Regions from separate parts of the Homo sapiens genome. Here regions 2 and 3 are each linked to region 1. The links come from fine-mapping of genetic effects on gene expression. A gene starts in region 1. Each other region holds a variant in brackets. All regions are shown on one strand. Distances are from middle to middle.

Evidence for each region. PIP is the estimated chance that this variant, and not a neighbour inherited with it, causes the effect.
Region 2: its variant is fine-mapped to the expression of KLK5 in visceral fat (GTEx, PIP 0.97).
Region 3: its variant is fine-mapped to the expression of KLK5 in lung (TOPMed, PIP above 0.99).

The regions. Positions count from the first base shown.
Region 1 is chr19:50,951,610-50,954,368 of GRCh38, reverse strand. KLK5 (kallikrein related peptidase 5) reads left to right here and starts at 1,331. Exons shown (of 6, transcript NM_012427.5): 1 at 1,331-1,622; 2 at 1,701-1,784. The coding sequence starts at 1,712. All of the region lies in intron 1 of LOC105372442 (a long non-coding RNA gene), which reads right to left.
Region 2 is chr19:51,482,113-51,484,871 of GRCh38, reverse strand. It overlaps CEACAM18 (CEA cell adhesion molecule 18), which reads right to left. Exons shown (of 6, transcript NM_001405061.1): 4 at 1,576-1,855. Among named protein-coding and RNA genes, the nearest start is that of CEACAM18, 5.0 kb to the right of the region's middle. The variant G/TAG (reference allele first, on the strand shown) is at 1,280.
Region 3 is chr19:50,975,426-50,978,184 of GRCh38, reverse strand. KLK7 (kallikrein related peptidase 7) reads left to right here. Exons shown (of 6, transcript NM_005046.4): 6 at 494-1,717. The coding sequence ends at 649. Among named protein-coding and RNA genes, the nearest start is that of KLK7, 7.1 kb to the left of the region's middle. The variant A/G (reference allele first, on the strand shown) is at 1,338.

The DNA.
Region 1 (2,759 bases):
ACTACGCCCGGCTAATTTTTTTGTATTTTTAGTAGAGACGGGGTTTCACCGTTTTAGCCGGGATGGCCTCGATCTCCTGACCTCGTGATCCGCCCGCCTCGGCCTCCCAAAGTGCTGGGATTACAGGCGTGAGCCACCGCGCCCGGCCATGATCATCTTCTTGACTATGCTGATGTGACAAGTACCTAAAGCCATCAGACTCTACCCTTTAAATATGCAGTTTGGGCCAGGCACCGTGGCTCATGCCTGTAATTCCAGCACTTTGGGAGGCAGAGGTGGGTGAATCACTTGAGGCCAGGAGTTTGAGACCAGCCTGGCCAACATGGTGAAACTCTGTCTTTACTAAAAAAAAAAAAAAAAAAAAAAAAATCAGCCGGGTGTCGTGGGGCACACCTGTAATCCCAGCTATGCTGGAGGCTGAGGCACGAGAGTCACTTGAACCCTGGAGGCGGAGGTTGCAGTGGGCCGAGATCACATCACCGCCCTCCAGCCTGGGCGACAGAGCAAGACTCTGTCTCAAATAAATAAATAAACAAACGAACAAGCAGTTTGTTGTACCTTAGTTATATCTAAAAAAAAAATGCTGTCAACAAATAGAGCAGAAGTGAAATAAAGGAAAATAAATGGGCCAAGAACTCTAAGGTATATTTGACAAATCATTCAGAACCTTTAAAAAAGAAAGAATCACAGAGGCATAGAAAGACAGGGAGGAACAGGGAGACAGAAACACCTGTGGCCCAAGGAGAACAAAACAAGGCTCCTAAGACAGACAGGAGGAGAGAGAGAGAGAGTGAGTGAGAGACAGACAGAGAAAAAGACAGAGAGAGAGAGACAGAGACAGAGAGACAGAGAGGCGAGAGGGATAGAAAGAGAGAGAGGGGTGGAGAGAGACACGAGATATTGAGAGAGACTCAGAAAGATAGCCGAGGGAGAACCACAGAGAGATGGAAGAAGACTCTGAGAAAAAACCAGAGACAAAGATGGAAAGAGGAGTATCGAGGGTGAACAGACAGTGGTGGAATGAGCAAAATGCAGAGAAGAAAGCAAGCAATCCAGGCGCCAAGAATAGTGACCCAGAGTTGGTGAGAAGCCAGATCCTTAAGGCTGGGGGAGGCAGGGAAGGGGCTGGCCTGGCTTCCGGAGACCCCTCCCCATTCTCCGGGCCAGGGAGGTAGGGAGTGACATTCCGGACTGGGTGGGGGGTGCTCTGGGGGTGGAGATAGGGGGAGCAGGAGGAGCTATTGCTAAGGCCCGATAGGCACCTCATTGCCCGGGAATGTGCCCCAGGGAGCAGTGGGTGGTTATAACTCAGGCCCGGTGCCCAGAGCCCAGGAGGAGGCAGTGGCCAGGAAGGCACAGGCCTGAGAAGTCTGCGGCTGAGCTGGGAGCAAATCCCCCACCCCCTACCTGGGGGACAGGGCAAGTGAGACCTGGTGAGGGTGGCTCAGCAGGCAGGGAAGGAGAGGTGTCTGTGCGTCCTGCACCCACATCTTTCTCTGTCCCCTCCTTGCCCTGTCTGGAGGCTGCTAGACTCCTATCTTCTGAATTCTATAGTGCCTGGGTCTCAGCGCAGTGCCGATGGTGGCCCGTCCTTGTGGTTCCTCTCTACCTGGGGAAATAAGGTAGGGGAGGGAGGGGAAGTGGGTTAAGGGCTCCCCGGATCGCCTGGGCCTCCCAACCCTCTGACATTCCCCATCCAGGTGCAGCGGCCATGGCTACAGCAAGACCCCCCTGGATGTGGGTGCTCTGTGCTCTGATCACAGCCTTGCTTCTGGGGGTCACAGGTAACCAGAACTCTGGGGTGGGAGGGTTGTGGGATTGGGAGGACTGTCTCTGCGGCACTAGAGCGCCTGTCCCCTGGGGAACTGTGTGAGCCTGGGCATGACTCCGGGACCGGGTGAATGTGAGTCTCTGTCTGTACTTGTGGTTGTGCGATCGTATGTGGCCCTGTGACTGCCACGGTGTGTGTCGGGGAGGGGGATGCCTTTTCCCATATCAGGTGACTGTGCGGCAGGTGGCACTGACCCTTTGAGGCTGTGTGTGTGGTTTTGTGATTGTGTGTGCATTTAAGATTGTGTGTGGCTCCACAGCTGTGTGGGTGAATGCATGTAGCACTGGGGGTGTTCACTGTGTGTTTGGCTGTGTGTGGTGACTTGGCATTGTATATGACTGCAGGTATCTGCAGTTCCTGTCCCTGAGGTCCCGGGATTGCGTGCAACAAAAGTGGTCATCACCATGGAAAGCTGTGACTGTGTGCTGCTTGCAGGCGATTATGTGATTGTGGCTGAGTGTGACGTTATGGATGCCCGTATTTGTGACCGTGTGACTACCTGAAGCTCTGTGTAGGGGTGACTGTATGTGACTGTGTGTGTCTGTGTGAGGCCGTGTAAATGCTACTGTATGTGTGATGGTGCAGCTGTGTGTCTGGAGTTTCTGTCTCTGCCTGGAGGGATAGAGGGTGCAGGGGTAGCTATCTCTGGGAGATGGGTGCCAGGTGACTGACTTGCAGTGTGTGCCTGTGTGCAGAAGAGTATGTGGCAGTCTGAACATCTGTGCACACACGGCATCTGTGCGTGGCACTGAGACACTGTGGATGAGGGTGTGCGATCCCGCTAGGCTGCCCGGGAGCGTGTGTACCTGGAGACAGAGCTGTATGTTAGCTGCACCTGTGGAGGCAACATGGGCGTGTCTGCAGAACTGCGTGCGTGCTTGGCTGTTACTGCTGTTGTGCGCGTGGTTCTTGGGGTGAGTTCGTGAAT
Region 2 (2,759 bases), 530 kb before region 1:
GCAAAGCACTGTTCCAGGTACGAGGGATTCAGCAGCCAACAAAACAAACTCCCTGTACCCATGGGCCTGACATTCTAGCTGGGAAGTGGACAGTGGACAATTAAGCAAAGAGATGTCTCACACTGCAAGCAACCATAAGTGAATAGAGAAGAATAAACCCTCATAAGGGGAGAGACAGTGACTGGAAGGGGGGTGTGTGACACAGGGTCATTAACTCATTGCATAAATGTTCACTGAGCACCAACTATGTGCTACACACTGTGCCAAGCACTGAGGACAAATGGAAAACAGAAAGCTCGCCCAAGGTGGATCACCTGAGGTCAAGAGTTCAAGACCAGCCTGGGCAACATGGTGAAACCCCATCTCTACTCTATTTTGTAAAAATACAAAAATTAGCTGGGCACAGTGGCGTGTGCCTGTAATCCCAGCTACTCAAGAGGCTGAGGCAGGAGAATCACTTGAGTCCGGGAGGTGCAGGTTGCAGTGAGCAGAGATTGCACCACTGCATCCAGCCTGGGCAACAGAGCGAGACTCTGTTAAAAAAAAAAAAAAAGCTTCCCCAGCTTCTGCCCTCCTGAATCTTGTAGTCCAGGGGAAGAGAAAAATGTGAATCGATGACTTGGAGGGCTGCATGCACACATCGTGTCTGGTGCATAGTAGGTGCTTAGGAGGTAGTGTGGCTGAAGTAAAGTCTGGAGACCACATCCTGTAATGTCTTCTGTACTTTCTTGCACAGTTTCATTTTATTCTCACAGCACCCTTTCCCTGCAGGGATTCTTATCCTTTCATTACAGTTGAGGAAACTGAGTCTCGGAACGATGGAGCTGCTTGTCCCAGGTTCATGGAGATAGGCAGCAGCAGAATGGGGATTTGGACCAAGAACCTTGGGCTGTAGAGCCCCTGCATTTACCTGCTGCACTCCTCTGCAGTCTCCCTGAGCACATCAGTCTCTCTCCTTGATGCAGAAGATTGGACGCATGGTTGCTAAGAAGATGCTTTCCCCATTTACAAATTCACTCCCAAGCCAAGTTTCTGACGCCATGGCCATGCCAAATCTCTACTCCCCGTCCACCCATCCCGTCCCTGCGTCTTTCTAATTCCTCATCTTGAAGCAGCTGAAGGGAGCAGTTGAGGGTGTAGGCTATGCCTGCCTGGGCTTGAATGCCACCTCTTCCATGGGTTACAAAGCAATAGAGCCTTGAATAAGCACTCAAACTCCATGGGGCTCAGTTTCTCACCTGTCAAATGGAGGTGATGCCAATCGCATTCACTTACTCCA[G/TAG]AGAAATGGTGAGAGTCACACAGGTTAGAACAAAGGCGGGCACATAGTAAGTGCTCAGCCAATGTCTGCTACTCTTATCCCCCTGGGAGTCACCCTGACTCTGATCTGAGGACTCCAGAGGATTCACAGAGGAGGCAGCTTTGGACCCAGACCTCAGAGAACTGGGAGATTTCACCCAGAGGTTGAGAGCATGTCATGGCACAGTGGAGGTGGCACTCCTGAGGGTGGGCACTGCCTAGCAGGGCATGGAGGCAGGGAGATGTGCAAAGCATGAGCCTGGAGGGGAGCTGCTGCACTCATGGGGGGCCTGGATCCTGACGTCCATGTACATGATCAGCTGTGTCACGGGGTTCTCCACAGTGCATCGGTAACGGCCCATCTGCTCCCAGGCAAGACTCGAGAGGTTCATCTTTGCATCTGAGAAGTTCAGGAGGGAGCCATTGTGGATCCAGTGGTACTTGAGATCCAGGAAGGAATAGCAGATACACTCCATTTCCACTTGGGAGCCGATCTCAGCTGTCACAATGCCGTTGAAATCATCAGGATTGCTCCTCAGCAGCACATAGTCGGGCCCATCTGTAGAGACAGGGTAGGAGGCCCAGGCTATGTTTCTGACCCCTCGGCGTCCCGTCTCATGAAGTCCTCCCCCAGCCAGGAGGTTCCCCATTGTGCACCTCGGGCTAACCCCTAGACCTGCCCCAGGCAAGGCAGCTGTGTCAACAACAATAACCATAAGAGCATCTTCTATGATTAAGGAACTACTAGAGGCCAGGCCCATGGTGCCATTTACATTGTAATAAAATTAGTGGAGTAAAAGCCAACACATGGGGCCTACTGTGTGCCAGGCACTGTTCTAAGCTCTGTGCCTGTCCCCACATTTGTTGAATTCCCAGAACAACCCATGTGACTGGTTCCACCATTGATCCATTTTATAGATGGAAAACAATGAGGCTCGGAGGAGAGGATTAGGACTTTATGACTCCAACTGACACAGAAGGATTGAGCCAGTCTCAGGGCCTGGGAGCAACTGCCCTGAGCAGCTGCAGCCTCTGGATCCTGGGTCTTGGTTCCAAGCCTCTGACCTGTAAACAGCTGTATGGAGGTCAGAAATTGTTCACCCCTCAACCCCACCTTCCACAGGATGGGTGCCGTAGCCTGCGCTTTAGGAAATCTGACAGACCGCTGGAGTAGTTCCAGGAGACGTGAAAGTGATTTTAGATGTGTGATTATGGTTTTCAGTTGGAAGATGTGGAAGAGTTTATTAAACTCTGTGAGCAGTCCTGGAATACTGGGGAAAAATCTAAGTGTTAATGTATTTATAAGTTCAGCGTATTCGATTTCCAAGAGCTGTCTGAGAATTTGTGGAGGTCTTCCTGGGTGGTGAACTTGCCCCGGTAGGCAGCTAAAAGGCTATAAAAAAAAAAGAATGTATGGAATGCATAATTGAGTCTTTAAATAAAGCTCTCTGTTTAAGGGAGCA
Region 3 (2,759 bases), 24 kb before region 1:
AACTTAGTCTAATGCATTCCTGCTGTTGTCTTGAAATTCTCAATAATTTTTGAACAAAGGGCCCTGCATTTTCGTTTTGCACCAAGTCCTGTAAATTATGTAACTGGTCTTCACCCTGGTCTCCGAGACCATCGTGTCCCCCTTTCCTGCGCCACAGGGCACGCATCCACCCCTTGGAGATGATGTTCCTTCTCCCACTAGCTTGGAGCAGGGTCCTTAACATTGGAAAATAAAGAGTGCTCTGATCCTGGAAGCCCCACCCCTTCTCTGCAATTGGTCTCATTGGCCAAGGGTCAAACCAGTGTCTTCAAAGGACCTAGTGTGTCCCTAGCACTAGCTCTCCCATTAGTCCCCAGAGACAATGAGTCTCTTCTCATTGGCTATGGTGGAAGTCCATAATCTGCAAGACAAAGACCGATAACTGAGGAATGTATGAGAATGAGTTGGGCTTTGATCTGAAGCCAAAGTTAATCTCCGGCTCTATTCCCTCTAGGGTGACTCAGGGGGACCGTTGGTGTGCAGAGGTACCCTGCAAGGTCTGGTGTCCTGGGGAACTTTCCCTTGCGGCCAACCCAATGACCCAGGAGTCTACACTCAAGTGTGCAAGTTCACCAAGTGGATAAATGACACCATGAAAAAGCATCGCTAACGCCACACTGAGTTAATTAACTGTGTGCTTCCAACAGAAAATGCACAGGAGTGAGGACGCCGATGACCTATGAAGTCAAATTTGACTTTACCTTTCCTCAAAGATATATTTAAACCAACCTCATGCCCTGTTGATAAACCAATCAAATTGGTAAAGACCTAAAACCAAAACAAATAAAGAAACACAAAACCCTCAGTGCTGGAGAAGAGTCAGTGAGACCAGCACTCTCAAACACTGGAACTGGACGTTCGTACAGTCTTTACGGAAGACACTTGGTCAACGTACACCGAGACCCTTATTCACCACCTTTGACCCAGTAACTCTAATCTTAGGAAGAACCTACTGAAACAAAAAAAATCCAAAATGTAGAACAAGACTTGAATTTACCATGATATTATTTATCACAGAAATGAAGTGAAACCATCAAACATGTTCCAAAAGTACCAGATGGCTTAAATAATAGTCTGGCTTGGCACAACGATGTTTTTTTTCTTTGAGACAGAGTCTCTGTTGCTTGGGCTGCAATGCAGTGATGCAATCTTGGCTCACTGCAACCTCCGCCTCCTGGGTTCAAGTGATTCTCGTGCTTCAGCCTCCCAAGTACCTGGGACTACAGGTGTGCACCACCACACCAGGCTAATTTTTTGTGTATTTTTACTAGAGACAGGGTTTCACCATGTTGGCCAGC[A/G]TGGTCTTGAACGCCTGACCTCAGATGATCCACCCACCTTGGCCTCCCAAAGTGCTGGGATTACAGGCATGAGCCACCACGGCCAGCCCACAATGATATTACAAACCTATTAAAAATGATACTTAGACAGAATTGTCAGTATTATTCAAGAACATTTAGGCTATAGGATGTTAAATGACAAAAGGAAGGACAAAAATATATATGTATGTGACCCTACCCATAAAAAATGAAATATTCACAGAATCAGATCTGAAAACACATGTCCCAGACTGCATACTGGGGTCGTCATGAGGTGTCTCCTTCCTTCTGTGTACTTTTCCTTGAATGTGCACTTTTATAACATGAAAAATAAAGGTGGGGAAAAAAGTCTGAAGATCTAAGATTGGAGAGAGGTGACCTTTCAGGAAGGGAGACTAGAAAGAAATATGTGCCTGGTTTTGAGCCCTGGTCCTGCCGGCCCTGTTCCAGGGCATATTTCCATTTCCCAGATCTCAGTTTTTCCTGTCTGTAAAATGGGAGAGAGAGGAAAGGATGGAGAGAGGAAGAAGGAAGGGAGGAGGGAGGAGAGAACAGGCCAACTTCATCAGCGTGGGAAGGGGTGTGAAAGTGTTTCTGAGCATCTCACGAGTGACAAGTGAGGAGGGAGGCTGGCGGTTTTCAGAGGGATTGGGATGACAGTAGACAGGACACAGGGGTCCCACGGGGGTCTGCCAGAAGTAAGCAAACAGTGCCGGAGGAAGATGGTGGCACCTGCTCCCCAAGAAGGGAGGGAAAGGAACCTCGGGAAGCGGGTAGGATGAGGGAGGAGTCCTCTGTGACTCAGAGCCTGGCCACAGCCCCAGCCATCTAACATCAAAGATCCTCTGTGTGGTCACACCTCAGACGCTGCTGACCGAGGAGCCACTCCAGCCCAGGACACGCCCTCCTACCTGTTCTTCCTGTTTTTCTCCCAGAATTCCCTCCCCACCAAGATCCTCCAGATCCTTCCCCTCCTTATCTCATCTCCCTCTGAGTCTCTCCTAACCCAGGCACCACAGCCCTGTCATATTGCAGAAATTCTGCAGCCGCTAATTCTGATTCTCCCATATAGGAGGCTAACACAGAAAACGCAGGAGTCCAGGCCCCCAGCCCCTCCTCCCTCAGACCCAGGAGTCCAGACCCCCCAGCCCCTCCTCCCTCAGACCCAGGAATCCAGACTCCCCCCAGCCCCTCCTCCCTCAGACCCAGGAGTCCAGAACCCCAGCCCCTCCTCCCTCAGACCCAGGAATCCAGACTCCCCCCAGCCCCTCCTCCCTCAGACCCAGGAGTCCAGACCAGCCCCAGCCCCTCCTCCCTCAGACCCAGGAGTGCAGGCCTGCCCCCACGAGCCCCTCCTCCCTCAGACCCAGGAATCCAGACTCCCCCCAGCCCCTCCTCCCTCAG